7 linked regions of the Homo sapiens genome follow. The protein of the gene in region 2 purifies or fractionates together with the protein of the main gene of each other region. This does not show direct contact. Each region holds a gene or a part of one and is shown on either strand. Other genes may lie near its edges. The genes, in order: PASK, SPNS2, PRPF39, IPO9, PCYOX1, NUP210 and INF2.

Region 1 (2,937 bases), on a different chromosome or scaffold from region 2:
ATCCTAAGTACTTGACCTAGCCAAGTCTGTCTGAGGGGGATGGACTGGAGTCTAAGGGAGGGAAGCAGCCAGTTGAGTATCTGACAAACACCCTGGAACCTGAGCAGCTCGGAGGAATACAGGGCTGGAGCCCCTCACACAGACCAGAGGTGGGGGCTGGGCCAGGAAGCCCCTCATGTGGACAGAGGTGGGAGCTGGCTGGCCATGGGATATTTGGGGACTGCTGGCAGTGAGCCAGCCACGTGTTTGACAGCAGAGTCTTGCTACAGACAGAAGGGAGGTCCCTGAGGAAGCCACCCTCCCCCGTCTTACCAGATGGAGCAAGCTTCAGAGCCCTAGGCCCACCCCTGGCAGGGCCTGCTTGTAAAAGGAACCCCAGAATGGCCAAGGCTAGACTTCTCTCCAACTGTGGCAAGTGGGGTGCACACATGGAAAAATGAGGAAACCAGGTATTTCTCACACTTAGCACACGGGAACAGTTCACAACATCCAAGTCAGGATAACTGTTTACTAACAAAGGTGCTTTAATTTGAAAAGCATTTGAGGAAATAAATTAATGAAATAGTCTGGCCATTTGACTAACCAGTTCTACAAATTTCACATATCCGTCACTCAGATGAGCATATACCAAGTCAGAGGAAACAAAACATGCACATATACAAAAGTAGAAAGAGAAAACACTCATGCCTTCAGAAGTTCACAAATTAAAAGCCCTTTAATAATATAAAACAGTTGAACACTGGAATGTTTTTTTCTAGGTCATGAAAAAAGTGAATTCCAAATCTATGTAATAAATCTAAAATAATACAGCATCACTGTCTTCTGTTCTGGTGTTTATCAAACCTGCACATGAGTTTTTAGAAGGTGAATTGGGGATGCTTCAGAATGTATTTTCTCCAAACAGATGGAGCCTGAAAACTGTGTGATTTTCCAAACCAAGTGGAGAAAAGCAGGAAGAAATTGGTGTTTAGCTGGTCAGCAGACGGGGATCCCCGGGATGCAAACAGCCTTGGCCATTAGGAGCCTCGCCTGGAACGGGGCCCCCACAAAGCTCCTGAGCCTGGGCCACATCACTCAGGCTCCTGTTCCCCATCTCCAGGCTCGCAGCGGACAGAACTCCACTTTCTGAAGAAACAAGAAGGTAACTGTATCACGTGCTAACAACTTAAGGTTCTAAAATACTTTGCTTCTCACTTGAAGAAGTCCTAGAACAAAAGCCTAAGGTGAGGCCCTCAGAAATCCAACTGGCAATGTCCCGGAAGTACAGATCCTGCCAAGGTGGGGATCTAAGCCCAGGGCCATCAACCGCAGCTTGGTCCAAATGCTCTGAGCAGTGGTTTTGGCTCTGTGGCCAGAGCCTTGTCTGAAGAGCCCTCGGCCCCGCCGGCTGCTAGAGAATCACTCTCAGCATCTGTGGCCTCATCCTCCCCTTCGGCCCAGTCAGACCATCACCAGCTGCATTCCTCAAACCATCTTTGAGGGTTCCGACCCCTTCTGCCAGGAGCTCCCATGACACCTGCCCACCCTCCAAGGTCCAAAGCCACACCCTGAACCCCAGTGGTGTCCAGAGGCCTCGGGACAGAATCAAACCCCCTCTCACAGGTGACAGGTCAGCTATAGGCCCTGACATTTGTGTCCAAGACAGCATGGGGGAGAGAGCCTCCTTTTCCTCCTTTTGACCTAGGAAGGCAGCCTGGGGACCTCGTTATTCCAAGTGAAGTCATGTGGGGTGGAGGGATGCTGAGAAGCCTCACCTGGCTTGTTTACTCGAAACACCTCTTCCCATGTATAGTCAGCAAGATTCACAGGCTGTGTTACCCACGGGTCTGTCACCAGCTTCTCCAAGGTGGTGCGTCTCTCAGGGACTGGCTGCAGCAGCCCAGACACAAGGCTCATGAGTTCTGGGGACACAAAGAACACAGATGGTAGGTCCAGATTGGGATGAAGTGGAGCACATCTCAGATTCCTGGGTGCTCACCACCCCCCCGCAGAGCCTCTGACTGGGCAGGTGGCGGCCCAGGAACCTCTAGTGCAGGGCCCAGCTGTGCTTGGACAGAAGCTGCAGGAAACATTCATTGCCTCTGAAATGAAAGCTTGGAGTTCAAGATGCCATCCCACTCAACCAAAATCCAGGTGGTGCAGAGGTTCCTAACTGCTCTATTCTCAGGGGCTCTGGCAATGCAGAGCTGTGAATAACGCAGGGTTAACATGACAGGTGAGGGGATGCCAGCACAAGCTGAGAGAAGCCCCCAGCCTTGCATCTGGATTCGGGCCCCAGTTCCTTTAACCATGTAGGCACCAAGTCAACAGGGCCACTTGGAGCCTCCCTGTCCTGACTGCAAGTGTGTTTCTCACAAGAGGGCCTCTAAGATCCAAAGAGGAACATTAACAAAAACTAAATTATCAAGATGTTTTAAAGTCATATGCAAATTATTTGATGAATAGAAAAGAAACAAATGAGACTGTTGATATGGACAGAGATACACTGAGGAATGAGGAAATGGGAAAAAAAAGTGGCTGGTCTCTAAGGACAGTGTCGACTGTCTACCACTTGCAGCTCACGCTCACCTTTGGACACCAGGTATGGCGGGTGTATGGCAGCCTCCACGGTCTCCTCCAGCTCACAGAAGGGGTTCTCCTCAAAGACCAGCGTGTACAGAGTGACTCCCAGAGACCACATCTCCAGCTCCGGCCCTCTGTAGCTGTGAGGAGGAGGAGGCATCAGGACGCCACGGCACTCAGCGCAGGCTTGCCAAGCCCGCCCATGGGAAGCACCATGGCCCTTCCCGACCAGCACACAGGCCAGGCAGTGGTTTCCCAAGAGGAGGGTCACTCCACCCCTCAAACACGCCCTCCATTTCCACGCACTTCTGCCCCAGGCCAGCCAGCAGGCCATGTGCCAGGAGTGGAGAGGCCATCGGGCAGCTCCGAGGCTAA
Region 2 (3,500 bases):
TCCTTCTTTAACTCTGTCCTTTAAATCTGTTTTTTCATAGTGTAGACCAGCTTTGTCCAAAAGAAATATAATGTAAGCCACATATTCCTGTCAAATTTTCTGGTAGCCGGACTAAAATAGTACAAGAAATAGGTGTGATTAATTCATAATATATTTTATTTAACTCAATATATCCAACATATTTCAACATGTAATCAATATAAAAGTTGTTAGGGCTGGGCGCGGTGGCTCACGCCTGTAAACCCAGCACTTTGGGAGGTCGAGGCGGGTGGATCACCTGAGGTCGGAAGTTCGAGACCAGCCTGGTCAACATGGTGAAACCCCCCATCTCTACTAAAGTAAATACAAAAATTAGCTAGCATGGTGGTGCACACCTGTAGTCCCAGCTACTCGGGAGGCTGAGGCAGGATAATCGCTTGAACCCAGGAGGTGGAGGTTGCATTGAGCCAAGATCGCGCCACTGTACTCCAGCCTGGGTGACAGAGTGAGGCTCTGTCTCAAAAAAAAAAAAAAAATTATACACACACACACATATGTATGTTGTTAATGGGATATTTTGCCTCCCTTTTCATACTAAGTCTTTGAAACCCAGTATGTGTATTTTCCATTCACAGCACATGTCAATATCACGGTGGCCAGGGGCCACTAGAGTGGACAGTGCAGGTCTAGAGTCTTTGTTGCCAGAGTTCGAGCCAAGGCTCTTCAGCTTCCCAGCCGTGTGACCTTGAAGACATCACCTGAGCCTTCTGTGTGATCATTCCCCTCCCGCCTGCCTCCCGGGTTGCGTGGGATAAATGAGACTGTATCTCGAGCACCTGGGACGGGGCCAGATTCCTAGGAGGGCTTCACGAGTGCCAGCTGCCTTCTCCTTCATGCCTCTGCTCAAGCTGGCCACGATGCCTTTCCTGGGATTTTTGTTGTTGTTGTTCTGTTTTTTGTTCTGTTTATGACAGTCCTTTCAGGACACCTTTGCAAGCCCCTCCCTTCTCCACAGGGCTGGTCTCCATCCTGGGAACTCTAGTAGCTTCTGCCCCAGCGCCACCCGGTGAACCTGCTAATTACGGCCTCTCCTCCGCCCCATGAGAACCCCCTGAGGGCAGCAGGCCTCAGAGCGGGTGAGGAGGGCCAGGCTCCTGTGCTTGCTCTTCTTACCGAGCGTTGCTTCAATTGGATGAAATTGAGGTAGCCCAGAAACCTCTTCTAAATCCTTCCTTGCACCTCCTTGCGCAGATGGGAACACAGCCATCCAGAGAACAAAGACACTTACCCAAGGTCACACGGGGGGCGGAGCAGGGCCACACCAGCCAGAGCGGCATCCTCTCCAGTCCCAGGAGCCCCAGGTGGAGGTAGGGGCATGACCCTTGCTTCTGGCCTGGGAACGCAGAGGCTCTGCTGGCTTAGGCAAGAGCCCTTTGGGTAGATGAATTTCAGTTTAATTGAGCCAAGGCAGTTTGAGCTCCCCTAGGGCACATGGCTCCTGCTCCTATGGTCCCTAGCAGCCACCCACTCTGCATTCTGAGCCCACTCCTAGCTGCAAGGTCAGGAGAAGGAGGGAGTCCCTCAGACGGGGGTCTCACGCCCCCTCTAACTAGCTCTGCTTCCTGGTGCCAGAGCCACCTCTGCCACCCAGGCTGCCATTCTTACCTCTGTGAAATGGAAGCAGAGCTGAGGGTGTAGGTGGCAGCATTTTGCTCCTGGAACCAGGCCCCACAAGAGGGAGGTGGCCCTGGCCTTGTTTATGGGTGGTGAATGACTATTTGGGAACTGAGATCCTTCCCCAACTTCTGTGGGGTACCTGTTCTCTTCTCAAGACCTATTTTCTTTCCCTTTGATCCAGCCTGGGGCAGCCTGGGCACTTGGAGTTGGGTGGAGTGGGGGCTGTTGAGGAAAGGCAGAGCCTTGCCCTGGGGGAGTCCTTTTCTGCCAAAGAAGCTGAGACTGGTATCCATGGCAACTGCTCACTAACACAAACCCAGAAGGAGCGATGAGCATAGGGACCCAGCTGGGAACACAAGCCGAGAGGGACTTGGGGGCTTCCCCAGAGCAGCTGAGCTGGGTGCAGGAGGAGGGGGTGCCAGGCTGGGGCTCACTCTCCTATTGGCTTTTTTTTTTTTTTTGGTCTGTCCTGTTAAGTCTATCCAGAATTGAAAGATGGGGAAACTGAGGCCCAGGGTCTTTTACAGGGTCACCTGGTGGGTAGGGGCTAAGCCAGGCCCTGTCTTGTGGCTCTGTGGCTCTCTCTTTAGATAAGGATGGCCACCTTAAGGATAAACAGTGCCCCTGCCTTGCCCTCTTAGGTGGCCTTGTCCTGGCCACTGCCACATCTGCACCGTGGAGAAACCCCAGCTGAGGTGTGAGGGGCAGGGCATCCAGAGTGTCTGACTGGCAGGCTCAGCACCCAGGTGAAGCGCCAGGTGGTCTAGAATGTCAGCGCCCTTGTGACTAACTGCCTGCTGCCCACTTCCTTGCTCCTGCTTCCTTTTCAAGGCACCTTCCAGCAGGCTCTGCCAGCCCCTCCGCTGTGCTGTCATCCATCAGAGGAAGTGCTTTGAAACATAGTACCTTGGTCTGGGGCCCTGGACCGGTGATGGGCCTGGCCTGTGCCTCTGTTTCTCATTTTGTGGATGAGGCAGGAAGGCTGCAGGTCTGCAGGTGATAGCCTGTTCTGAGAGGGAGGCTGCCCTGTTCAGAGCTGCTCAGAGGAGGAGCTCCTTGTCCCTTCCCCAGAACCTTCTGCAATAGGAAGTGGCTTTTGTTTCTGCCTGTGGGGGCCTGAAATCTTGAAGGTAGAAGGGGGATGAGAGTGAGGGAGTCCAGGAGAACACTGGCCCGATCCCTAGGCTTCTGGGGCTGGGCTCCCTCTTAAGCTCCAAATGTCTTCTGGGCTGAGCTTCCTGTTCCTGGCTCTGCCAGCCTTCGCCAGCTTTACTGTGTGACTGGAGGCAAATTCTGACTCTCTCTGATCCCTGAATCCATGACAGATGATTTTTGTCCCTCTCTTGCTGTTGTCAGTGTCTTGGTCCCAAGGATAGTGTGGTGCACTTGGTCTCAGGAACTCCAGTCTGCTGGTCCCTGGCTCTGCCTGCACCTCCTTTCCCCAGGACAACCAGATCTGCTTCCCGGGAGCTACAGTAGCCAACTGCGCTTGTCCCTGGTGGGTCTCAGCGGTGTCCTCTTTCCAGGATGCCGTCTCCAGTGCTCTGGGTTGAACCAAGTGCCTAACTCCCGGTTTTGAACTGTGCTCTGCTCCGCCTCCATCACAGCACCTATCCCCATGGAGAGTCACCATCCCCCTCTAGCCATGGTCACACCTGGGACCCCCGCATGCATAGGAGACTGCCCCAGGCTTGAGCTCTGTTGACTGAGTCACAGACTCAGTTGACTGAGACTTGGGTTGACTCATACCTGCCTGACCCAAAGCACATCCTTCTGGGCTGAAAGGGCACTGGTAGGTTTGGACAGCTCAGGTGAAGGGCCAGGCCCCTGTGCTGACATCAGGG
Region 3 (3,500 bases), on a different chromosome or scaffold from region 2:
GCCACTGCACCTGGGCTTTTTTTTTTTTTTTTTTTTTTTTTTTGAGACAGAGTTTCATTGTCATTGAGGCTGGAGTGCAGTAGCGTGATCTCAGCTCACTGCAGCTTCCACCTCCTGGGTTCAAGCCATTCTCTTGCCTCAGGCTCCCAAGTAGCTGGGATTAAAGGTGTGCACCACCACGCCAGTTAATTTTTGTATTTTTAGTAGAGATGGGGTTTTACCATGTTGGCCAGGCTGGTCTCAAACTCCAGACCTCAAGTGATCCTCCTGCCTTGGCCTCCCAAAGTGGTGGGATTATAGGCATGAGCCACCACGCCCGGTTAAGATGTTTATCTATAGTTGTAGTAAAGATTTAAATTATTTGAAGCATAGAGATTTTTTTTTATGTTTTGTTTTCTAATTGTCATGGTAGGTCATGTCATACTAAATACAAGATAGGCTATAGAGTTTTAATTTACTGTCATTGAACAATTTGCATTGTTTAGGAGGTACTAGGATGATCAACTGATTGAAAAATTCATCAGTGTGTTAATGAATTTTTTCACCCCTTTAGATATATGCTGAAAACATTTAGCATGAGTTGTATTTTAATACAATTTTCAATATTTTTTCAAATTGAGACATAAAAACTAAGGCATTTTAAATATCTGTGCTCTAATAAAAATATTTTAGAAATATTCATTGATGCTGCTTTTTACACAGGAGAACACAAAGTTATACCTCAATTTACTTGAAATGGAATATAGTGGTGACCTCAAACAAAATGAAGAAAATATCCTAAATTGTTTTGACAAAGCTGTACATGGTTCATTACCTATTAAAATGAGAATTACATTTTCTCAGAGAAAAGTGGAATTTCTTGAAGATTTTGGTTCCGATGTTAATAAGTAAGATATTAGTTATATTACCTATTTGAATGATAAATGAGCATTGATATTTTTGTATGGGGATTTGATGATTAGTATAGATTAATACATTGTTAAATTTTAAAATGTTCGCTTAGTTTACTTTTTCCTCAGATATATATGGGGGTAAATTCAATTTTGTAAATGTATATGTACTTAACAGGAAGGCATAAGGTTTGTCTTTCCTTCAAAACTGTTTTCCCAATTTTAGAATGACAATTTAAACCATGACTGAATGAGAGAAGGCAGGAAGGAGCAATCCTGTGAAAAGGGAAATGGGATAAGGATTGAACCCTGAAACCCAAATATTTAATATATAGGTCAATAAAGATGGATGGGATTAATCTCCAGTAGGAGTGCTATTTTCTGAGATTGGAGAAGAGGATGGATATGGTCCCACAGAACATGCCTAGTGGCCTCATCTTCCTTCATTGTAAAAGCCGAAAGTTGAGGATGGTTGAAGAGAATGCTCCAGTGGATTTGGGAAAAGGACAAGTTTAAGATTAAATTTACTAAGAGTACAAATATTGGCTAGAGCATTGCTGAAGTTCCAGTCTTATCTGATTGTAGTAAGCAAATACACCAGTTCCTGTTAGGCATGTGCCTTTTATGATTATTCGCATTTAGATTTCTGTTGAAACCACTGTAGATAAACTGAGAATTAGTTGTGTCTGGGTGTTTGTATATGTGTGTATATATTTTTGATGGCTGTGTAAAATTTCAGTGCAACTAATATAACAGCTAATGTTTATATTAGTGTATTTTAATGTATTAATGTATATATTTGCGTGCTTGGCATGATGCCAAATGTTTTATATTAGCTATCTTGCAGAAAATTCATAGCAGTAGAATGAGGGTGTAGGGTTCTGTTCTCTTAATAGATGAGAGGATTAAACAGAGATTAGGCATTTTTTCTGAGGTCATGTAGCTATTATCACATTGTGGAGCGAGGACTGAACCTACTTCAGAGTTTCTGCTCTTAACTGCTTGTGTGCTGTGTATTTAGTGTCTTATGTTTACACTGAAGAAGGTACACAAAAGATGAGATATGTAATTCTAGCTTCTAGTCTGGTTGAATGATATGATTAACAGGAAGTAAGTGTATGAGGTAGCAAATAACTGCTAGGAGGGCTGTGATGTCTCTCGATCAGAATGGATTTGTCATGCTTCATAGAGGAGGTTGGGCTTCATTTAGTTATTACTGGATTCTGATAAACTGAGCAGAGGACACAGTGGCGGAAGCAAGTTGAATCTCATCTAAAAGTAACATCTGCTTGATTGGAGGTTTTTGTGAAGTAGTGGAAGCGTGATCTTGACTGTGTTGTGCATTGAAAGCTAGACTGAATTGATAGCACATGCAGTAGGTAGCTGACAGTAGTAAGCTATTGGAATTTTGACCAGTGATGTTAAATGACATTATTTTAATTTGGTAAAAACAGGCAGACAAATCGGAGATTCAACACAAGTGTCATTTAGTCCATTATAAGTATAGGGAATGGAGTGTCTGAGTATCAGGACTATGATTTTAGTAGTAGAAATTTTAAAAATAAAGGAGCCGCTTAGAAATTTTCTTAGGCAGTTTCCTAAGTAAAAACAACTTTAAATATTTAATAAAGTTTGTTTTTTGTATATTCCAGAGGATATTTTTTTCTTTCCTTTCAGGCTTCTGAATGCTTATGATGAACATCAAACACTCCTGAAAGAACAGGATTCTTTAAAAAGGAAAGCAGAAAATGGGTATGTCACTTTTTGCTAAGTCAAGAAGGCGTGCTTCATTATGGAAATGCCTTCAAAGACAAATGTTTTTAAGTGTTACTTTTATGTTGTAATTTACATACTTTATTTTCATGATTTGAAAAAGTCTTGAGTGATTCAGAACTTCAGTAAAACAAATATACAGATAACATTCATCTATTCGTTAAAGTTCTTACCTGTGGGAGTTTTGAAAGTTTCCATTCTGACGTTTTATATAGATCAGAAGAACCAGAGGAAAAGAAAGCACATACAGAAGATACAACTTCATCATCTACACAGATGATTGATGGTGATTTACAGGCAAACCAAGCTGTATATAATTATAGTGCGTGGTATCAAGTGAGTCTGCATAATTATAATTCTTTGTTCATAGATGTTATTAGCATAAATTAGGATAGTTTCTTTTTTTTTAAAAAAAGTTTTTGTTCCAATTGTGTAATACATTCTTTGGTGGTTAAGTACTAGAATTTTAGCAGTGAACACTTGCTTGTTTTCTTAAACATAGCTGCTTTAATTATACTTTTACATATGGAACTCTGCCACAGTTCTAATATGCTAACATACTTACTTTTTCCTTTCAGTACAATTATCAGAATCCTTGGAATTATGGACAATATTATCCTCCCCCTCCAACCTGATGGGAAAAATGTAAATTTCAAATGCAGTGTGTGAAAAGTATGAAATTATTATTTTTTTTAATGAGGGATGTAAACAGTATAAGCTTGTTGTATTTGATAACCTGTCTTCCTTGTTTCTGTGTAACATGATTTGTTTAGTAATAGGGGGAAAATGTCAATTAGTAGCTTACCACAGATACTGTTTCCTACCATTTATAAAATT
Region 4 (3,500 bases), on a different chromosome or scaffold from region 2:
CCCTGCTCATCATGCCACTGGGCTACTTGTTCCAGGGTCACTGACACATAGGCCCGCAAGCACTCTCCGCCATTCTGGGGAGACAGGGGTGGCAAGCAAGATTAGTAATCGAGGGACAGATGCCAGAAGGCCCTCAGTCTGTATAAACAAATGTTCCCAGAGGCCTATGCCTCATAAAAGCGGTGAGTCTATAATGTTTGTGGTGGGCTCATACCACTGGAGTTAAGACATTTACTGTTACAGACATAGACGTGCATTACATAATTCCCCCTTTACCTAATCAGCTATCTCACAAATGTGTATATATATTTTTTTAATCACAAGGGACAATGGCCAAGCAAAATGAATTTTAATCATAAAGGTCTACCTCTGGTACTAAAAAAATATGCTTACAATCTTGGAATAACTGGGGATACTGTAGGTCTTTATATAGGTCTTACACAAACCACTAGTTGCCTAGGGATTTCCAAGCTGATCAATATTCACTGGCAAGTTCCTATAACCTTTCTAATCAATCACAGTAGCAGACACCTGAAAAGGTAACCAATTCACCCAAGAAACAAAAAGAGAAAAAATATTCAGGCATGTCTCCCCTCTCTAGAGGCCCATCACTCTGCTGACTTTATTACTAGAAGAAATATGCAGAAAGACTTTCTTATGGCCCCAAGTCTAGATGTCTGTAACCTCTTTCACAGTAGCAATACCCAATACAGATGGGCAGGGTGCTTGGTATCCATATTTTTAAAAACTGTAACATGCTCCAAAGCACCAGAAATGCTTGGCTTTTGCAGACTGAACCCTTCCTGAATCTGCTAAGTAAATATGGAGTTGAGAATTCCGTATTTCAAAAGCATAAAACCATGTCAGATTTCTCAGCATAGTATAAGCCCATGGCTGGGGAGCTATCTTCCCTCTTCTACTCTCCATGTCTCAGATACCTGCATGGTGGCATTGTCATCTGTGTGAAGGGTACACTGTGCCACAGCAGGGAAAGCTTGGCAGATGAGAAGCTGGGAAAGGGGAGGCTTTGTATTTCGTACTACTGTTGTCAGGATATCAATGGCTGTCTGAAAGAGAGAAGAAAAAGAAAAGTCAGAATTGCCTCTGGGGTGGGGGTTGCCCAACAACCAAGATCCTTACTGGATGGGTATTACATAGCAACCCAGAGAAAGCTTATTAATGAAAGGCAAGTTTCCAAAATAAAAGGAATAATTAAATGGGTAGTACTCTCAGCCTTCTCATAATAGCTTACTAATTGATTAGCCATAGGGGTGGGCAGTAGTACATGGTAGTGGATTGGATAACCAGGTGACATACTTAGTGGCACTGTGTAAAGGTGGCACTCTGTTCAATTCACTGAGGGTACCTCTGGAACAAGAAGAGCCATTTTCTTTCTTTCTTTCTTTTTGAGGCAGTCTCGCTCTGTCACCCAGGCTGGAGTGCAGTGGCACGATCTCCACTCACTGCAACCTCTGCCTCCTGGGTTCAAGTGATTCTCCTGCCTCAGCCTCTTGAGTAGCTGGTACTGCAGATGCCTGCCACCATGCCCGGCTAATTTTTGTATTTTTAGTAGAGATAGGGTTTCACCACATTGGCCAGGCTGGTCTCGAACTCCTGACCTTGTGATCCACCCACCTCGGCCTCCCAAAGTGCTGCAATTATAGGCATGAGCCACCGCGCCAAGCCAAGCCATTTTCTTAAAGCTTCAGAGAATCACCCACTGTCCTTGCAGGCAAAAGAGCTCAGCAAAATCACCCCATGAATCTCTAACGCTATTAGGTTCTTGTCAGCTAGATGCATCTGTGGGTGGCACTTGTAGATCTCTCTCACACACACACACACACACACACGGCCACTTACCGCACAAAGCCCTGCAGGAATCTTGTCTGCTGGGGCCTGCATTATGCTGACCAGAGTGGGAATCAGCCTCATTTGCATTGGGCCCTGACAGGCTTCAATCTGGGACAGCTCCTTGAAGATGTCCTGAGCCAGTGAGGCGACGACGGGATCTGAAGTGGATAAGGCAACACGGAATCCCCCTGCCTGATGGTCTGCATCTGCTTCTCGCTTAATGATGCCTGTTGTTTGGCCCTAACCTAAGTTAACAACTTCTGCATTGATTACTTATCACATACCCGGGACCTAGTGGGGCCACATGAATAACCTGAAAGAACAGGAGAGATCCTAAATCTGCAAGAGGTACACTTTGTATGGCTTCATTAAAGTAGGGACTAGTCATTAACAGCTACTCATAAAACAAAATGTGGCTTTTTCTAGAGAAAAATCTTTAAAGTCTTTATTCTTGTGAAACCTACGTTATAAAACCAAATGCTTAAAAAAAAAAAAAAAGCCCAACTGATACTTTAAGAAGACATGAAAGCTGCAAAAATTGCCAAAACACTGGCTTTGATGCATGAGAGAAATCATACATATCTCCTATGGGGTAGCCACGGTAGACATGAAGAACTCTCAAAGCTACTTCTGGGGCAAAAGGCAAAACTCCTAAAAAGCAGAGCCTTATGAAGAAAGGGAACTTTAGCTCAATCTTCTTTATCTATAGAACAAAACATCCTCCTCTATTTAGTATGGAAAAATATAGGCAATGTGCATTAAAGTATACCTTAAAAGATCACTGCAGCATTGTTTGTAATAGAAAAAAATTGGGAATACCCTAGATGTCCATTAACAGAATGGGTAAATTATGATATACCCATTTTATGGAACATTAGTAATGGCTGAAAAGAATGAGATATATCCAAGAACACAATGTGGAAAGCTCCTCAGTACACATTTTTCAGTGAAAAAGCTATCAAATAACATGTTCAGTATATCACATTATATAAATAATCCTTATCCTGTACATCTTTCTGAGCTTCAATATTGGAGCTCTCTCTTTAAAAAAAGAATCCTTAATATTTTACTAGTAATAAGGTATTAATAAATACATTCACTACAGGAAAAAAAAAACTTAAAATGCAGAAAAGTAATAATGAAAACACCTGTAATTCCACTACCTAAACACTCAACATTTTGATGTATTTTTTTTTAAAACATACCTATCTATACATACATGCTTTTCTAAAAGAAAAATCAAAACTTGGGATCATATTCTATGGATTTTTTGGGAAAAGTATCTTTTCATTTATTATAATGTAAGCTCTTTCCCATGGTTTCAGATATTCCTTTTAAGCTTGATTTTTAATGGCTGCACAGTATTTCATTTTATGGATATAATTAACTAATGTCTTTTTATAATTTCCAAATTTTTACTACTGTAAAAAATATCTAGTGAATACCTTTGTTTATAAACTTTTCCATATATCTTTCTTTAGTATCTCCTTTTCTAAATTATAGTCCTAGCCCTTTTCTTTTAGGAGGCTTTTCATTTGCCCAATTTCCTATTCTATCATCAAAGTTCTGAATTATGTCTCTTGCTTATTAGCCCTTTATTTATTATCTTTATCCCTAAGTCCTTACTAGAGAGTAAGTGTTACAGAAAT
Region 5 (3,500 bases), on a different chromosome or scaffold from region 2:
AATTCACTCAGATTACGTTCTTTCATTTGATCAGCATAGACACCACTGACTTAGCTGTGCTTTATGTTTTTGCAGGTCTCTCTGCTGTTCAGGCCTCTGGTGGCCTACTGGGGATATATAATGGAGAGACTCTGGTATTTGAGGAGAGCAACTGGTTCATAATTAACGTGATTAAATTAGTTTGGCGCTATGGATTTCAATCCCTCCGTATGCACATGTGGGTAGAGGACGTGTTAGACAAGTTCATGAGGTAATTTTTTTTCCTTCCATTTAACCTAAGATCTTTTAATTTAGGTTAAATTAAACTTGATGAACTTTAGGAATTATGATTTCTTGTAAGCATTTTCTACCTCACAGCAAGGCCTGTTTATAACATTGTTAGGCAAAATGTTTTGTAGAAACTATGCAGACTATTTGCTTGGATATTGAAAGGTTGGTTTATTTTTGCTTCTGAAGTGTATTTTGCAAATGCTTCTTTAGTGTTGCCAGATACTGTTAGATGCCTTGAATTCTTATGACAACTTACTCTGGTAGGTACTGTTTTTAGCTTCTTTAAACAGATGCAGAAGGTGGCGGTGTAGAGAGGTTTTAAAAGGCAAGTTCACCCACATAGTAAGTGGTATAGCTGGAGTTGCCACCCAGGCAGTCTGGCCTTTGAGTCTTCACTCTTAATCTCTATGCTGTGCTGGTGTTGTGTATATGAATTGAGATAATGTGTACAAGAGCTTGTAGAAAGGATCAGAAAACTTAAATGGCCTTTAATAGTGACATGTTTTCAGTGAACCAGCAGCCTGAAGTAGAGTAAAAGTTCCATATTCCAAGAATTTACATTCTAGCACTGTTTTGGGTAGTGAGAATTCAGGTGCCTCTTTTTCGTCCTTATGCTTTTCTATATTTAAACAGTTTTTTTAATGCGTGTGAATATGTATCACTTTGGTAATCAGGAAGACTAACATAAAATAGCCAGTCTAATTTTGAAAGGTACAATCTGTATTTTTAAAGCTGTTGGCATGTTCTAGTTTTTTAGTTTTTTTGTTTTTTTGTTTTTGAGATGGAGTTTCGCTTGTTGCCTAGGCTGGAGTGCAATGGTTCGATATTGGCTCACTGCAACCTCTGCCTCTTGGGTTCAAGCGATACTCCTGCCTCAGGCTCCCGAGTAGCTGGGATTACAGATGCCTGCCACCACGCCCAGCTAATTTTTGTATTTTTAGTAGAGATGGGGTTTCACCCTCTTGGCCAGGCTGGTCTCGAACTCCTGACCTCAGGTGATCCACCTGCCTCGGCCTCCCAAAGTGCTGGGATTACAGGTGTGAGCTACCGAGCTTGGCCGGCATGTGCTAATTTTTTTTTTTTTTTTTTTTGAGATGGAGTTTTGCTCTGTCGCCCGGGCTGGAGTGCAGTGGCACCATCTCGGCTCACTGCAACCTCTGCCTCCCTGGTTCAAGCGATTCTCCTGCCTCAGACTCCCGAATAGCTGGGATTACAGGTGCCTGCCACTGTGCCTGGCTAATTTTTTGTATTTTTAGTAGAGACGGGGTTTCACTGTGTTAGCCAGGATGGTCTTGATCTCCTGACCTCGTGATCCGCCTGCCTCAGCCTCCCAAAGTGTTGGGATTGCAGGCATGAGCCACTGTGCCCGGCTAGCACATGCTAATTTTTATGCTGCTTTACAGTTTTAGGTACTGGAGGCCAGGATCGCATCATTACACTCCAGCCTGGGTGACAGAACAAGATTCCATCTTGAGGGGAAAAACAAAACAAAACAAAACATGTCATATGACCAGGTATTGAACAGGACAAATATGAGTTAAGCAGGGCTGGGCACAGTGGCTTATGCCTCTAATCCCAGAATTTTGGGAGGCTGAGGCTGGTGGATCACCTGAGGTCAGGAGTTTGAGACCAGCCTGACCAACATGGTAAAACCCTGTCTCTACAAAAAATATAAAAATTTAGCCGGCGTGGTGGTGCATGCCTGTAATCCCAGCTACTTGTGAGCCTGAGGCAGGAGAATCACTTGAACCTGGGAGGCAGAGGTTGCAGTGAGCCACGATCGTGCCATTACACTCTAGCCTGGGGGACAGAGCCAGACTGTCTAAAAAAAAAAAAAAGAAAGCTAAGCAGGATATGCTCTGGTTTCTATAACTCATGGTAGTTTGGGGTTTCTTTCTTTCTCAACATCATTCTTAGGTCAGTTCCTTAAATGCCTTTCCCGTGGGTACCTTAAGTCCATCTACAGTGCATAATGTTTTTAAGTAGCCATTCATTCATTCACCCAATATTGAATACCTGTTAGGTGCTAGGCATTGTTCTATGTTGAGAGTATAGGACCTACAACATGTCCTTGTCCTCAAAGAATATATATTCTAGTGGAGAGACAGGCAATACACAACCAAGGAAATATATAGAATTTGCGTAGAGACGGCCAGTCACTTTATAGAAGGTGGGTGGCATGGTGCTGCATACTCAGCAGGCAGATCAAGTTCTGATGGCATCAGCCCTGCTTGTGTGTATTGTTTTTCTTTTCTTTTCTTTTTTTTTTTTGAGATAGAGTCTCGTTTTGTCGCCCAGGCTGGAGTGCAGTGGCGGGATCTCGGCTTACTGCAACATCTGCCTCCCAGGTTCAAGTGATTCTCCTGCCTCAGCCTCCTGAGTAGCTGGGACTACAGGCACATGCCACCATGCCTGGTTAATTTTTTGTATTTTTAGTAGAGATGTGGTTTCACCGTGTTAGCCAGGCTGGTCTCAAACTCCTGACCTTGTGATCTGCCTGTCTCGGCTTCCCAAAGTGTTGGGATTATAGGCGTGAGCCACTGTGCCCGGCCCTCTTTTTTTTTTTTTTTTTTTTGATACAGGTCTCACTCTGTCACCCAGGCTGGAGTGCAGTGGTGTGATCATGGCTCACTGCAGCCTGGACCTCCTGGGCTCAGGGGATCTGCCTACCTTAGCCTCTGTGTAGCTGGGACTACAGGCACGTGCCATCAGATCTGGCTAATTTTTTGTATTTTTTTTGTAGAGATGAGGTTTGGCCATGTTGCCCAGGCTGGTCTTGAATTCCTGGGCTCGAGTGTTCCACTCACCTGGGCCTCCCAAAGTGTTGGGATTACGGTTGTGAGCTCCTGTTCCCAGCCTTGTTTTTTTTTTTATCTGTGGCTTGCTTGAGATGTAGAGAATTGCCCTTTGAGAAATTAAGAAATTACTTTTTTTTTTTTGAGATGAGTTTCACTCTGTCACCCAGGCTGGAGTGCAGTGGTGCAATCTCGGCTCACTGCAACCTCTGCCTCCTGAGTCCAAGCGATTCTCCTGCCTCAGCCTCCTGAGTAGCTGGGATTACAGGCATGTGCCACCATACCCAGATAATTTTTTTATTTTTAGTAGAGATGGGGTTTTACCATGTTGGCTAGGCTGGTCTCAAACTCCTGGCCTTAATTGATCTGCCCGCCTTGGCCTCCTAAAGTGCTGCGATTACAGGCATGAGCCACCGCACCTGGCCTAAGAAATCA
Region 6 (3,588 bases), on a different chromosome or scaffold from region 2:
AAAACAAACGAAAAACAAAAACAAAACAAAACAAAACAAAAAAACATTTCCAGGATGCAGGAATGCACATGTAAGCATGCACAAAGACACACAGAGAAACAGAGAACGAGAGTTCACTTTTGGCCAGACTTAAGAATTCTAGAGAAAAAACAATCTATATGATGTACTATATTTTTAGTGCTAAATGGTGCTAAAAGCCTTTTCTGGCAACCATTAGAGACAGAGAGTTGCTTGGTTAGCTTGGGAGCAGAAAGCTGAACTGTGTGGCATCACCTGGTTTTGTCAATGTGCCTTCTTGGGCACACTCACTTGCTGGCAAGATCTGGCTGCGTCCAGATGCACTTGCATTTGCCAACCTGAATGTGCTTGAAAATGATGCTCACCCTTTGGGGAGAATAAAGCTCAGACCTCCAGCTCTGCCAGGCCCCAGAGTATCATAGATGGGTAAAGGGAAGAAATCATCACCATCAGACAGAAATCTCAGCAACGATCACACCCTCTTAAAAAATCACATAGAACTTTATTAAATAAACCAGTAGAAAGGCTCCTATTTACATCCAGGTTGTCAGTTTAAGCTCAAGTAATATGCAAGGCACAATTCTTCCTTTCTCCAGCTTTAGAAAAATCAACCACATGGCCCAGCCCTGAAGGACTGAAGGGAGCTTGTGCGGGATCCCGTCATCCTGGACTCTCCACACAGCGTCCACGCATGGATGGCCATGGGCATGAGTCTCTGGATCTCCCTGAGGGTAGCCCAGCCTCGGCCTGGAGCACAGGGGCCTGTGATCTGAGAATCTCAGATCCAGAATCAGGAGCTGGGAAGAGAGGACTTTTCCAAGGGTCTCCTCCCCCAGGCCCTGGGGAGTCCCTTCTGGATGGGCAGGCCCTGGGCTGGCGGCCGCCCTCCATCATTGGCCCAGGCCGGGCTCTAGGGCCTGCTGGGAAGCTGTCTGGGGCCCTGCGCCTGATGAGCTGCCATGAAAGTGGCCGCCTCTCACACTGGCAGGCGGTGGCTCAGATCTGCTGAGGTTCTGGAGTGGCACAGGAACAGGAGGAGCAAATGACACTGGGTCTTTGTGCTGAGGCAGGACACAGCGGCTTTCCGAAACACACACACAGAAAATATGACTCCTGCTGCCATCTCAAGGACATTTTCCTAAGGACAGTCCTGGTGTCCTGATGGAGTGAAAGGGATCACACGTGGGATGTCCCAGCAGGGCCTAAGCCAAGTCCATCAGATGTCTCAACGGCTTATGAAACAAAAACAGAGGACTGAAGTCTGTTCACAGTGGCCCATGGTTGGGCAGCAGCCCTGGGTGAGCTCCTGTGTTCTCCAGCCTCTCGCTCACCCAGGGCTTGGCTATCCTGGCCTCCAGGTGCTGGTTCCTGAGGCTTCCCTTGCGGCAGTGGCGCAGATACAGGGACACTCATGTCCCATTGCTCCTCAGAAGTCCTAGCAGCAGCCAGACTAGGGGCAAAGTAAGTTTTCACAGGGGGAAAAACCCCACCAAAAACCCCCTAAAGTAACTGGACAATCCTTTCCCTGAGACCACTACAGTAACATCACCCACAGACAACTTCTAAAGAGCACTTCTAACTGCTCAAAGTCTTGAGAAGGGAAAGATTTTAGCAAGGCTAGGAAAATAAAAATGCAACAGCACATTGTCCAGAAACCCTAGACAACCATGCAAAAAGGAATGAGCCAAAAAGTCTTAGCTTTGTAAGACTTGAAAGGAAAAAAACACACATTTAAAACTCCTACATAAAATGAGCTAATGGGCAGAGCCGAAACTACAGCTCTGTGTGAAGAGACGGCAGTGAAGCTGGCCTGGGGCCGGGGCACTCATCTGGAGGGGCTTGTTCCAGTGTGAATGCAGCAGGGATGTTCCATCTTGGGGGTGCACGAGGCTCGGCTGAGACCCATCCTCCGGGAACCTTCACGCGGCCTAGTGGGAGGCATAGGCTGGGCTCCACAGCCCTGAGGGAGGGCTGGCTTTGCGAGCAGGAGGCAATGCATTGGGAGATGTGGGTGATGAGGCAGCGAAATCTAGGGTGGGAAGAGAGACGATGTTAGCAGCAGAGCCAGGGAAAGCGGCGCACTCTTCAGTTACAGCCAGCATTCAGCAGGCGCCTGCCTCACCCAGGACACTCTCACAGTGATGCCCCGAGGCCTCCCCGGCCAGCAGAGGGAAGTCCACGGGCACCTGCTGAGCTGGCCTCATTCACACAGAGAGGCCTGGGATGCCACCCTAACACCCAGGAGCGCAGAGCCTTCCGGGGAGAACGTGTCTCAAGTTTCAGGACCACAGCAGCATCTGTCCAGGGGGCATGAGGCAGGGAGGCCCCGTGCATCTGAATGCAATGCAGCCTCGGGCAAGAGCGCCACAGGAACAAAGACCCCGAGGGGAGCAGCGATTCTGCAGTGCTCCGGAGACCTTGCAGAGATCCAGGTGTGGCTCCCAAAACCCAGGGAGGAGCACGCTGAGAGAGGCAGCTAGAAAGGGCAGGCACCTGCTGCCAGAGCAGCTGCAGAAGGCAGCAGAGCCGCGAGGAGGCCGAGCACCCGTGGCCTCCCCTGGGTGCCGCTTTGCAGGTAGAGAAGTCGTCAGGCAGAAGACAAGGGCGTGTGGGCTCTCCTTACCCAGGAAAGTGCTTCTACCCACACAACTGGGTCTTCTTTCAAAAAAATTCAGGGACCCCCCTGAAGCCGGTCCATGGGCCCCCATGTCAGCAGACACGAGCTCGAGGACTCTTTGTGTAGGGGAGAGAACCCTCAAATGGGAATCAGGAGACATTAAAGGGCCTTCACGTACAGCAGTACAGGCTGGGCACTGCATTGTTTGAGAGAGAAACTACATTCACACAGTGAGGTGCTCCCTGGAGCTGTGCAGGGTCACCAGGGCTTCGGGGTCACCAGAGAGACAGTTAGACCATTGAAATAAATGACTTTGCCCATTCTTCTGGGAAATTTCTCATCAGAACTACCCAGAATCCCCATCTGTGAGTCAGCTCGTCCAACCCCAGCTTAGAGCCTTCTGAGGCAGCCTCAGCAATTGGGCATCCAGTCCTAGCATGCACTCCTGCCTAGACAGAGCTCCTTGCTGCCCATACCTCCACCCAGCATGGCTCTACCTGGGGAAAGCTCTTGCTGAACCAGGACTGGCAGCCCCTCTGCCCCGACCCTCCTGGCTCCCACATCTGTCCTCTGGGCCTCAGGCTCCTTTGGCCCAGGCAAGGGCCTGTTGAGACTTAGGGTTCAGGAGCCTCGACCCCTCCCCCAGGGCTCTTCTCTTTCTCAGCAGCTCTGCCTGGTTGTGCCTGCAGGGGGGCTACTCACAGTGGGGGCTGTGTCCAGGGCTGGCTCGAGGCGTGAGGGCTGCAGGCACAGCAAGATCCCGGGGCGTGCAGACAGTGTGGTAGGCTGCAAGAGCACAGGGTTGGTTAGAGCAGGTCGGGGCAGGGGAACAGACCCAGAGATACAGGCAGCCTCCTCACCTATGATCATGACCGCTGTCCCAGCCAACAGGGCGAAGAGCGTGAAGAACATGACCTGGTAGGAATCCAGGAAGTGCTGGAAGAGGCTGGCTC
Region 7 (3,500 bases), on a different chromosome or scaffold from region 2:
ATCATGATGCTGCTGAGAGCGCCTTTCTGCCCACCTGCTCCCAGGGGGCCCTTCTGTCCTGCTGTGGGTCCTCACAGTGGCCCGGGGGCCCTCTTTGCACAACAAGCGGAGTTCAAGATCTTGGAGGGCTTTGGAGGCAGGAGCCTTGCACTCCATCCAGATCTTGGGGACTGCAGGTGGCATGAGGGCTGGAGTGCTTCTTGGGTGTGAGACGGGCCAGGTGACAGTGAGGACACAGCCAGCCCTCACCAAGGCCCAGTGCGCCCCATGCCCCTGGACACGTGGCAGTGGGTGGACCCCCATCCTCACCTGCCTTGAGGCCCCCTGTGCACAGACCCTCCCTGGGCCTTGCCGGCAGTTGGTGAGCCACCAGGTCAGTAGAGGTCCCTCAAGGGGCTGTTGGCCTGGTGGGGAAGGTGACACATGCTGGAGGCTCAAAGGAGCTGGGAGTCTGAGTGTGAGGGAGGGGAATGGGGGTCATGGTAGGGCAGGTTCAGCTCCAGGTGCCTCCACCGCCCTGCAGGGCCTGGGCTGCCCAGAACCCCGGGGTGCTGCCAGGAACGCGTGCAGTCCTGGAGATCCATGGGTTGCCAAGCAGTGGAAAAATTGGGGCTCTCGGAGGAGCTAAAAATACAGTGTGGCAGCCCCTGCCTCCTAGTTCCGGAATCCTCTCCTGCCGTTCTGCCCACCCACCCCGTGGAAGACAAGCTCCCTCCCTGCACCCCCACCACCAACGCTGGCTCAGGGCCCAGAAGCACCCAGCCCTGTGCCAGTGCCAGAAGGGCGACACCACAGCTGCCTGCCCACTCCCAGGCAGCAGCCCCCCACAGGTGCTCATGTGCCCAGCCAGTGCCTGCCCTACCCCCGCCACTGCTTCAGGGTCCCCAGAGCCCCTTGGTCCCAGGCACAGTAGGCAGTACCTGCCACCCCAGGGCTGCCAGGCTCAGGGCTTGGCCTGTTCCTCGTGGGGAGCCTGGACCCAGGCAGACCTCTCCCTTCCCTACCAGTGGGGACTTCACAGGGGAGGGGGCTGTCCCAGGCAGACTCAGAACATGTCACAGCGGGGGCCTCCAGGCCCATTGGTGCTGGCCGAGGGCATAGGAGCTCCCACACTGTGCTGTGGAAGGCCCTCCTCGCCTGGCTCCTGGGAGGCAAGTGAGGGAGCCGAGGCCTGGGGGCTTCAGTGGCTGGCTCAGGTCCCTCGCGTGCTGGGATTCAAGTCTGGGTACCCTAACCCTGGCCTGTGTGCCGCTCAGAACCATGGGCCCATGCAGGAGCCCCCAGCTACTCTCCACAGCTCGGTGCTGGGCCTGCCTCAGGAGCCCACACTCCCTGGCTCTGGTTTTCTGTCTGCACCGCAGGGGCTAGGCACATGGCTGCAGGTCTAGTGAAGGCCAGCATGGCCCTGTCCCCACCCACACCACACACTCAGCTTGACTGTTGACTGCTAGGCGGGGCGGTGGCCCGGTGGCTTCCCGAGAGTCAGTGCAGCTGCCCTAGCATGTAGGCATTCGGATGGAGGTGCTGGCATCACCACACCAGGCTGGCCAGGCCCAGGCCCAGAGGGGGACCCTGCCTGCCAGAGCTAGAGTCAGGGGAGAGGCATGGCCCCGTCCTCTGGAAGCCCCAGGCTATTGGTTGACAAAAGCAAGTGCTGAAGAACCATGGTGATGTCCCACTAGCATGGGTGGGGTGAGCCCCTCAGACCTCAGAGTCTTCATCTGCAAAAGACCCTGCCCTGTGCAGTTCCATTGGTGCTGGTGGACTGCCGGGGGGGGTGGATGGGACGCCCCTTCTTGGTGCCCTGACCCTTTTGCTGTCCAAGGCATGGGGTCTGGCCTGAGCCATGGGTACTGGGCCCTGCAGAGCCTGGATGGTCCTGCCCTGCCTCAGCCAGAGCTGGTGCCGGCTGTAGAAAAGATTGCGAAGAACGCAAATTCCTGTGCCTGTGGGGAGGTGGCCACGCCCTACAGCCGGGGCTGGGGAGCTCTGAGGACACATTCCTGCGCTGGTGGCCCCGCCAACCCACTTTCCAGATGGAGAGCAGAGGGGAAGGGTAGCCTGCCCAGGGGCACACAGCTCAGCAATGAGACTCCCGCCCCCTTCCCTTCTCAGTTGGCACTGGCACCTTCCAGCGTATTGTTCCCCATAGCCCCGTGCCCCTGAGATCAGTAAACTGTGGATTCCTTCTGGAATCCTTGCAGAAGTGGACACCACCCCCCAGTGAGAACAGGCAAGGCTGTTTTTGCAGAGCTCGCTGTAGCAGGGAGTCGGCCACCGCCACCCGCGTTTAGCAGAGACTCACAGGCGGGCGGGGGAGTGGGAAGCCTCATGGTTTTCTCATATGGATAATTCACTCTATACATAGAAAGCTTTTTATAGACACAGGGAAGGCTCGGGGATGCCCTGAGAGAGGCTGCTGGCTGGAATTTGGGCTCCTATGAGATGAGACAAAAATCACAGAAGCTGTCAGTTATTACCCAGGTCCCAGCCATTTGGGGCCAGTGGCCAGATTGCGGGTCAGAGTGCTGCATATATGGTCTGGCCGTGGTGTGTTTGCAGGTTCAGCCTCATGCTGAAAAGCAGTTGGAACATTCTCCGGTGTAGAGCCTGACGGGGGGCCTGGGTGAGATCGGGCAGCCTTGGCAGCACCACAGAAGGAGGAGAGCAGCTCCGGCCTCAGCCTCCGGGGCCTCAGCCGGAGCCCTGTCTATGCCGGGCCGCAGCCCAGCGAGACCCTGTTACACTCACTGCCCCCAGACAGCACCCGGTGGGACACGGCCAGCTGGGGCAGCTCAGACACAGAGCCAGGCACCCAGGCACGGGGGTATAGGAACCTGATGGGCAGGAGGGCCAGTTTCCTCCCACCGTGGCTCCACCCCACTGACCAAGGGGGATCCTCTTGACTGGGGTCTTTCAGGGGCTTGCACAGGGCAAGGAGCGCTGGGCAGTGCCAAGAGGGGCAGTACTCAGGTCAGGGAGCATCTTCTGTGTCCAGGGACACCCTGGGGCCTGGGGCACGGTGGCTCTCGGCGGCACTGCTTGTCTCTAAAAGGTCAGGATTTTTTGCATGGAGGGACCCCCGGGGCTCTTGGCTGGAGAGGACACTCTGGATGCCAGGGGCCGGGCCTGGGAGAGTTCATAACTCCGTCCACTCAGCCTGTGCCAAGGGGACAGGGACTCCGGCCAATGGAGGCGGGGGAGGAAAGGAGGGTCAGTTCTGGGGCCTCTTTAGGCAGCAACAGCCAAGGCGGGTGGGAATATATGCAGAGGCCCGGCTGCCTGGCTCTTCATGGTGGTGGGAGCAACCCTACTGCCACCAGGAGGGGCGTTGGGGACCTGAGGCTGCCTGGGAGGGACCCGGCTGTCTCTGGCAGCTCAGCGGTCAGCAGCGATGAGAAGCCAGGGGAGCGTGAGGAGCAGCCCAGGACAGGGCCCAGAGTGGGTGGGCAGAGGTGGCCGGAAGGTCTTGCGCATCTGGGTGAGTGGACGGCCACTGG

Evidence for each region.
Region 1: the proteins of SPNS2 (region 2) and PASK purify together in Homo sapiens (affinity purification with mass spectrometry; one large-scale study listed by BioGRID and IntAct). This does not show direct contact.
Region 3: the proteins of SPNS2 (region 2) and PRPF39 purify together in Homo sapiens (affinity purification with mass spectrometry; one large-scale study listed by BioGRID and IntAct). This does not show direct contact.
Region 4: the proteins of SPNS2 (region 2) and IPO9 purify together in Homo sapiens (affinity purification with mass spectrometry; one large-scale study listed by BioGRID and IntAct). This does not show direct contact.
Region 5: the proteins of SPNS2 (region 2) and PCYOX1 purify together in Homo sapiens (affinity purification with mass spectrometry; one large-scale study listed by BioGRID and IntAct). This does not show direct contact.
Region 6: the proteins of SPNS2 (region 2) and NUP210 purify together in Homo sapiens (affinity purification with mass spectrometry; one large-scale study listed by BioGRID and IntAct). This does not show direct contact.
Region 7: the proteins of SPNS2 (region 2) and INF2 purify together in Homo sapiens (affinity purification with mass spectrometry; one large-scale study listed by BioGRID and IntAct). This does not show direct contact.

Annotation. Positions count from the first base shown.
Region 1 is NC_000002.12:241,105,599-241,108,535, forward strand, and holds the end of PASK (PAS domain-containing serine/threonine-protein kinase), read right to left. Parts: exon of another isoform or gene 2,869-2,937; intron 2,703-2,868; coding exon 2,569-2,702; intron 1,902-2,568; coding exon 1,755-1,901; intron 1,126-1,754; coding exon 968-1,125; 3' UTR 501-967; downstream 1-500. UniProt on the Homo sapiens protein: Serine/threonine-protein kinase involved in energy homeostasis and protein translation. Phosphorylates EEF1A1, GYS1, PDX1 and RPS6.
Region 2 is NC_000017.11:4,501,881-4,505,380, forward strand, and holds part of SPNS2 (sphingosine-1-phosphate transporter SPNS2), read left to right. Parts: intron 1-3,500.
Region 3 is NC_000014.9:45,111,616-45,115,115, forward strand, and holds part of PRPF39 (pre-mRNA-processing factor 39), read left to right. Parts: intron 1-702; coding exon 703-887; intron 888-2,567; coding exon 2,568-2,642; intron 2,643-2,878; coding exon 2,879-2,999; intron 3,000-3,241; coding exon 3,242-3,298; 3' UTR 3,299-3,500. UniProt on the Homo sapiens protein: Involved in pre-mRNA splicing.
Region 4 is NC_000001.11:201,867,157-201,870,656, reverse strand, and holds part of IPO9 (importin-9), read right to left. Parts: intron 2,010-3,500; coding exon 1,861-2,009; intron 1,068-1,860; coding exon 939-1,067; intron 75-938; coding exon 1-74. UniProt on the Homo sapiens protein: Nuclear transport receptor that mediates nuclear import of proteins, such as histones, proteasome and actin. Serves as receptor for nuclear localization signals (NLS) in cargo substrates.
Region 5 is NC_000002.12:70,261,137-70,264,636, forward strand, and holds part of PCYOX1 (prenylcysteine oxidase 1 precursor), read left to right. Parts: intron 1-75; coding exon 76-250; intron 251-3,500. UniProt on the Homo sapiens protein: Prenylcysteine oxidase that cleaves the thioether bond of prenyl-L-cysteines, such as farnesylcysteine and geranylgeranylcysteine. Only active against free prenylcysteines and not prenylcysteine residues within prenylated proteins or peptides.
Region 6 is NC_000003.12:13,315,735-13,319,322, forward strand, and holds the end of NUP210 (nuclear pore membrane glycoprotein 210 precursor), read right to left. Parts: coding exon 3,496-3,588; intron 3,422-3,495; coding exon 3,338-3,421; intron 2,048-3,337; coding exon 1,947-2,047; 3' UTR 501-1,946; downstream 1-500. UniProt on the Homo sapiens protein: Nucleoporin essential for nuclear pore assembly and fusion, nuclear pore spacing, as well as structural integrity.
Region 7 is NC_000014.9:104,696,118-104,699,617, forward strand, and holds part of INF2 (inverted formin-2), read left to right. Parts: intron 1-3,500.